Homo sapiens: one gene and its partner. The protein of the gene in region 1 interacts with the protein of each later gene in a pairwise test. Each region holds a gene or a part of one and is shown in the gene's direction. Other genes may lie near its edges.

Evidence for each region.
Region 2: the proteins of SPCS2 (region 1) and TEFM interact in a two-hybrid assay, tested with the Homo sapiens proteins (one large-scale study listed by IntAct).

What each region holds. Positions count from the first base shown.
Region 1 is NC_000011.10:74,976,185-74,979,654, forward strand, and holds the end of SPCS2 (signal peptidase complex subunit 2), read left to right. Parts: intron 1-672; coding exon 673-859; 3' UTR 860-2,849; downstream 2,850-3,470. UniProt on the Homo sapiens protein: Component of the signal peptidase complex (SPC) which catalyzes the cleavage of N-terminal signal sequences from nascent proteins as they are translocated into the lumen of the endoplasmic reticulum.
Region 2 is NC_000017.11:30,900,557-30,903,268, reverse strand, and holds part of TEFM (transcription elongation factor, mitochondrial), read left to right. Parts: intron 1-2,706; coding exon 2,707-2,712. UniProt on the Homo sapiens protein: Transcription elongation factor which increases mitochondrial RNA polymerase processivity. Regulates transcription of the mitochondrial genome, including genes important for the oxidative phosphorylation machinery.

The sequences.
Region 1 (3,470 bases):
CTAAGAGTATGAAGCAATTAAGACAACAATCTTTGCTCAAGAATCTCCTAGACAATCCTGATTCAAGCACCAGAAACAAAGGGAAAAGAAACCTCCCAGTCTAGTGAAGAAAGTAGTACACATCATGTCAACAGATAGGTAATTTTGTTGATACCATAAGAGCCTATTATTAGGCCTGGCATATGACAGGAGGTCAGTATTTGAGTTGAGTATTGATTGATGGTACTGTGGAAGACAGAGGAAACACATCTGACCCAGATTGGTAGGCTTTCCCAGAAAAGTTTATGCCCAAGTATAGTGTTAACAAATAAGAACTTCTCAGGTGAGATAGGGGAGAAGAGTCTGCGAGGAAAACCTGTCTAGCATGGCAAATACGAAGTCCAGAGATGAGAGAAGATGGTCCACGTGGTTTAAAAGTCTACAACAAGGTAAAGGAGGTACACAGTAATTAAAGTAGGAAAGATATGTCAACACCTAAGAATCAGAACTAGTATCTTGAAAAGTTAGGAGCCCTGGGGTTTTGTTTTTGCTTTTGCTTTTAAAGGATGTGTTTGTTCCCTGTATCACCGTGCCCAGCTTACTCCTTTTCTTCGGAAACACTTGGTGCCGTATTGTTACTGGTTGAATCTCTGTGTTTGGTTTTTAATTTGTTATCTTTGCCCCCATGCTTAGGTTTGATGACAAATACACCTTGAAGCTGACCTTCATCAGTGGGAGAACAAAGCAGCAGCGGGAAGCCGAGTTCACAAAGTCCATTGCTAAGTTTTTTGACCACAGTGGGACACTGGTCATGGATGCATATGAGCCTGAAATATCCAGGCTCCATGACAGTCTTGCCATAGAAAGAAAAATAAAGTAGCCAATTCTAAAAGTAGCCCTCTTTCTCCTGGATCTTGCTGAATTAGTGGCTTGGGGGGTGGGGGAGATAAAAAGAACTTAAAATGGGTAAAGTAAGAAATGTTAAAAAGTCCCTGTTTTGTCCTGAAATTTTAGTCTATTCTGGGTAAATAGGATTTTCTGACACAGATATGAGAAGTTGTAGCTCTGATGTCTAGCTGTAGTCTCCTTGATCTGCTGATTGCATTATTTTAATTTGCTTTTCTGGGAAAGCAGTTTTGCTAAAAGCTGTACAGACTTTTTCTTTTGTACCTAGCAGTACTTTATATAGTATAGCTTTGGGCCATGTAGCATTTTAAGACTCAATTTTAAAAAATTATTAATCTGTTGCTGACTCTTAATTCCTATTTCAATATGTGTTTCCTTGAAGAATTCAGGATACAACTTCTTGTGTATGACAGCTTTCCTTCACACACTATTTTTGTGGGTGTGTATATATCTGATTTGGGAAGAATTTAAAAAACACATAGCTTTTTAATTTGTTTGAAACAGACTTTCTGCCTGTTACATTTTTGCTTTTAACCAATTAAAGAAGCCAATGGCATTTTAGTTTTATATTGTGTTTTCCACTAGTATATCCCTGTTGATTTGTTTGTGCCTTTTATTAACTGCCATTTTCTAAAATTTTTTTCAATAAAAGGAAGGAAGATGTGAAAAAAATGGAGTCATAGTTTTGATGGAGAGAACAGAGAAACAAGTGTTAACATCTTTCTACTATAGGTTTTTTTCATTTTTAGGCTATTTTACTTGTCAAAGGCCCCTGAGAACCTGTAGCTAAGGAACTCTTAGCTTTCCAGTGATAATAACAATAATAACAACATTCTGTACTTACTTTGTGCCAGAAATGCTCCAAGTACTTTACATGTGTTAATAATGCTCACAGCAATCCTAAGAGGCAGGTGCTGTTATTATCCCCATTTTACACATGAGGAAACTGAGATACAAAAGTTAAATAATTGTCACACAGCTAGTGATAGAACTGGGATTCAAACCTGGGGAGTCCGGCTTCAGAGTTTGTGGTCCTGCAGAGACAAAACAGCCGCTTTTCCAGTATTTTCCCAGTATGGTCAGAGAAGACCTGGGTGCTTGCCAAGATCCTTTGACCTTTAGGAATATTTCCCTACAGCCTTACAAAACATCAATTTTGGCTGAGCCTAGTACCCAACACTATATTCAGTTTGTAAGAAATTACCATTATCACATTTCCTGTTTGTCTTGGAGAGGTTGTCCTATCTCGCACCACATGGTAGGGAATTGTGAACAACACTGGACAGAAAGTTAAAGCCTTGGATTCTGTACTCTTCATTCCTGTAAACCTTGGGTAAGTTTCGGAATTCTCTGTGAGCTTCTTAAAGTTTTTGAAAGCATGTAACCGGATAAGTGTATTTTTACAATGGAGGAGTTACAGTCATCTTGGTATTTGTGGGAGATTGGTTCCAGGATCCCCAAGCATACCAAAATCCAAGGATGCTCAAGTCCCTTATATAAAATGGTATAGCATTTGCATATAACCTACACACATCCTCCCATATACTTTTAATCACCTCTGGATTACCTATAATACCTAATATAATGTAAATGCTATGTAAATAGTTATACTGCATTGGTTTTTTAATTTATATTTTTTGTTATTTTTTAAAATATATTTTTAATCCATGGTTGGTTAAATCTGTAGATATAGAGGGCCAACTGTACTGTTAGACACAAGGGTCTCGAGGCTTGCAGATAGAGACTGAATAACCCTCTCCATGATGATCCCTTAGAGTTCCCCCACTGTGCCTTTTTCTTTACATGTGCATGCAAACATGTGTCTCCACATACATTTTTTTTAACAAAAATTGAATTATGTTGATATATGTCCTGTAATTTGTGTTTTAAACTTAATATATCTTAGGCATTTTCCCTGTGTGTGTGTATAATGCAGCTATTAAAAATGAGTCTGAGGCCAGGCATGGTGGCTCACGCCTTTAATCCTAGCACTTTGGGAGACCAAGACAGGTAAATCACCTGAGGTCAGGAGTTCGAGACCACCTTGGCCAACATGGTGAAACCACATCTCTACTAAAAATACAAAAAATTGGCTGGGCATGGTGGCAGATGCCTGTAATCCCAGCTACTTGGGAGGCTGAGGCAGGAGAATGGCTTGAACTGGGAGGCGGAGGTTGCAGTGAGCCGAGATCACACCCTGCACTCCAGCCTGGGCAACAAGAGCAAAACTCCGTCTCAAAAAAGAAAAAAAAAAGAGTCTGACATACATATATATAAAAGAAACTGTTCTAAAATACCAGAAGTGCAAAGGCAGGGGACCAATTGCAACAAGTAGCTGGGGTGATAACCCCTATATATATATACACATAGGTCAGTCTCATTTTTAATAGCTACATAATATTCCATAGTATAAGTGATTTTACTTTAATACCCTATTGATGATAATTTTTCCCCAGTTTTTTTCACTATTCCAGGAAGGAGTATGGATTGAGGAGAGGGGAAGAAAATAGGTCCTCAAATGAGAGACAAGAAACCTGGGTTGTTAGCAACTTTTTTCTAATTTGTGACCTTGAATACATCCTATT
Region 2 (2,712 bases), on another chromosome or scaffold:
GCTACAGAGCAAGACTCTGTCTCAAAAAAAAAAAAAAAACACCATTCTAAAAGCAATTCTTTTTCTATTGTCTTAAAAAAATAAATACTAGAAATATTTGACACAGCCAATTTTTTTTTTTTTTTTTTTTTTGAGACAGAGTCTTGTGCTGTCGCCAGGCTGGAGTACAGTGGCATGATCTCACAACAACCTCCACCTCCCAGGTTCAAGCGATTCTCCTGCCTCAGCCTCCTGAGTAGCTGAAACTACAGGCACATGCCACCACGCCCAGCTAATTTTTGTATTTTTAGTAGAGATGAGGTTTTACCATGTTGGCGCCAGGATGGTCTTGATCTGTTGACCTCGTGATCCACCTGCCTCGGGCTCCCGAAGTGCTGAGATTACAGGTGTGAGACACTGCGCCCGGCCACAGCACTCAAGTATTAAACTTTAGAGGAACTCATGTCCTGTGTAACATTGCTTGATAATCATTATCTCATAAAAATCATAAGCACCATTTTTTTTCTGGACCAGTGGGTCCGTTTTTTGAGGAATATGGGTACTTTTGAAAACCTGATGAAAGCTGTGGACCCTCTTCCCATAGAAAAAGATATAGCACATATACACAGAATACTACACAGTTTCAGAGGACTGGCAGATTCTGTTAAGTCCACTCATGGACTCCAAGTAGAACTGCTGCAATTGATCTGGAACATATTTTAACCAAATTCTTCAGGGAGGATTCTCATCCAGATTCATGGCCAAAACTATTTATACCCAGATTAGAGTGGAGTTGCATCTTATTTAGGGGGCTGGATTTTAAGTCAGTTTTTATGGAGATATAAGTCATGCAGTAAAATCCTTTAAGAAAAAATCGATTGCCGACGAAGTATTGTGTGTAGTCTGGTTCAGTAATGCTTGTGCACAGTAAAGCTTGAGAGTCACTTAGCTAAAGAAAACCAAAAGGAAGTCTGTATTTTGGGCATCTATACTATTTTGTCTTTAAGATATTTATCCAGTCCTTAGCAATGAAAGGGAGATGGGTATACAACTAATTGTTCCTGTTTATTTGCCTCTGTATCTATAGAACATATTAGTTTGTTAATATAACTAAGTGAGCCATGTTGGGGAAAGGTGATAGCATTGTACTTCATCGTCAGCCCAGACTTGATAGGAAGCAAAATCTAAATATTCAATTACTTATTATATATCTCCTCTTAGAAGCCCTATAGGCAACCCAAACTTAATGCATTAAAAACAAACCAAAACAAAACAAAAAAATTTCTTCCCACCTTCCCTAGGTCATGTGACTCCTATCTTCGTCATCATTAATGATGCCATTCAGTCACTGATATAAAACTGGAATTATTCTAGACTCCTCGTTAAACCTATGTATTAATTCTGCTCCCACTATCTGTTTCTTTTCCTTCTGTCATTGTCTTCAATTCTTAACACTTTCTCATGTTGTAACAGGTACCTAACACAGATCCCTACCTTTAGTTCCCTCCAGCCCATCTTTTACACCATCAGTGATTTTTCTGAAATGTAAATCTTATGTTATTCCTTAAAATTCTGTTTTTTTAGTGGCCCCTGTAGCACTCAGGATAAAGCAAGTTACTTACCTTTATAGACATCTGCCTTGTCCTCTGCCCTTTTCCTATTCAGTCTTTATTCTACTGCCAGAGTGTGAGATGTCAAACAGCCTATCTTTCCAGACATCTGGGTGAAATAACTTCCCATTTACTGTCTCATTCTCCTAGTCCTCCAGTAAACCTTCCCTGACCACTTCTCTCTACAATAGTTTTATGGTGGCATTTCTTATAATGTACAGTTACGTTTGTTGTTTCCTAGTATCTAGTGCAGACCTTGGCTACACTTGAGTTTGAATGCCTACTTTGGGCAAGGTGCTGAGAATGAGTATAGGTCCTTTATCTATAAACTGACTGCTGCTGGTTACCTTTTAATAATAATTACTCCTTGGTGGCTCACACCTGTAATCCCAGCACTTTGGGAGGCAGAGGCAGGTGGATCACTTGAGGTCAGGAGCTCAAGACCAGCCTGGCCAACATGGTGAAACCCTGTCTCTACTAAACATACAAAAATTAGCTGGGTGTGGTGGCAGGTACCTGTAATCCCAGCTACTCAGGAAGCTGAGGCAGAAGGATTGCTTGAATCTGGGAGGTGGATGTTGCAGTGAGCTGATTGCGCCACTGCACTCTAGCCTGGGTGACAGAACGAGACTCCATCTCAAACAAAATAATAATTACTCCTGCATTTCTTTAATAATTCTCAGTTCATAAACTATAAATAAGTTTATATTACATAAACTAGTTAGGCATTCTGAATTTGTAGATTATGTTTGCATCTAAAATATTTACACTTCTGGCCAGGCACGGTGGCTCATGCCTGTAATCCTAGCTCTTTGGGAGGTCAAGGCAGGTGGATCATGAGATCAGGAGATCGAGACTATCCTGGCTAACACAGTAAAACCCCATCTCTACTAAAAAAAAAAATAAAAAAATTAGCCGGGCGTGGTGGCGGGCGCCTGTAGTCCCAGCTAGTCGGGAGGCTGAGGCAGGAGAATGGCATGAACCCAGAAGGTGGAGCTTGTAGTGAGTTGAGATCGCGCCACTGCACTCCAGCCTGGGAGACAGAGCGAGACTCCGTCTCAAAAAAAGAAAAAACTAAAATGTTTATACTTCTAATTAAATCAGTCTTTTCTTTTAGGCAGTT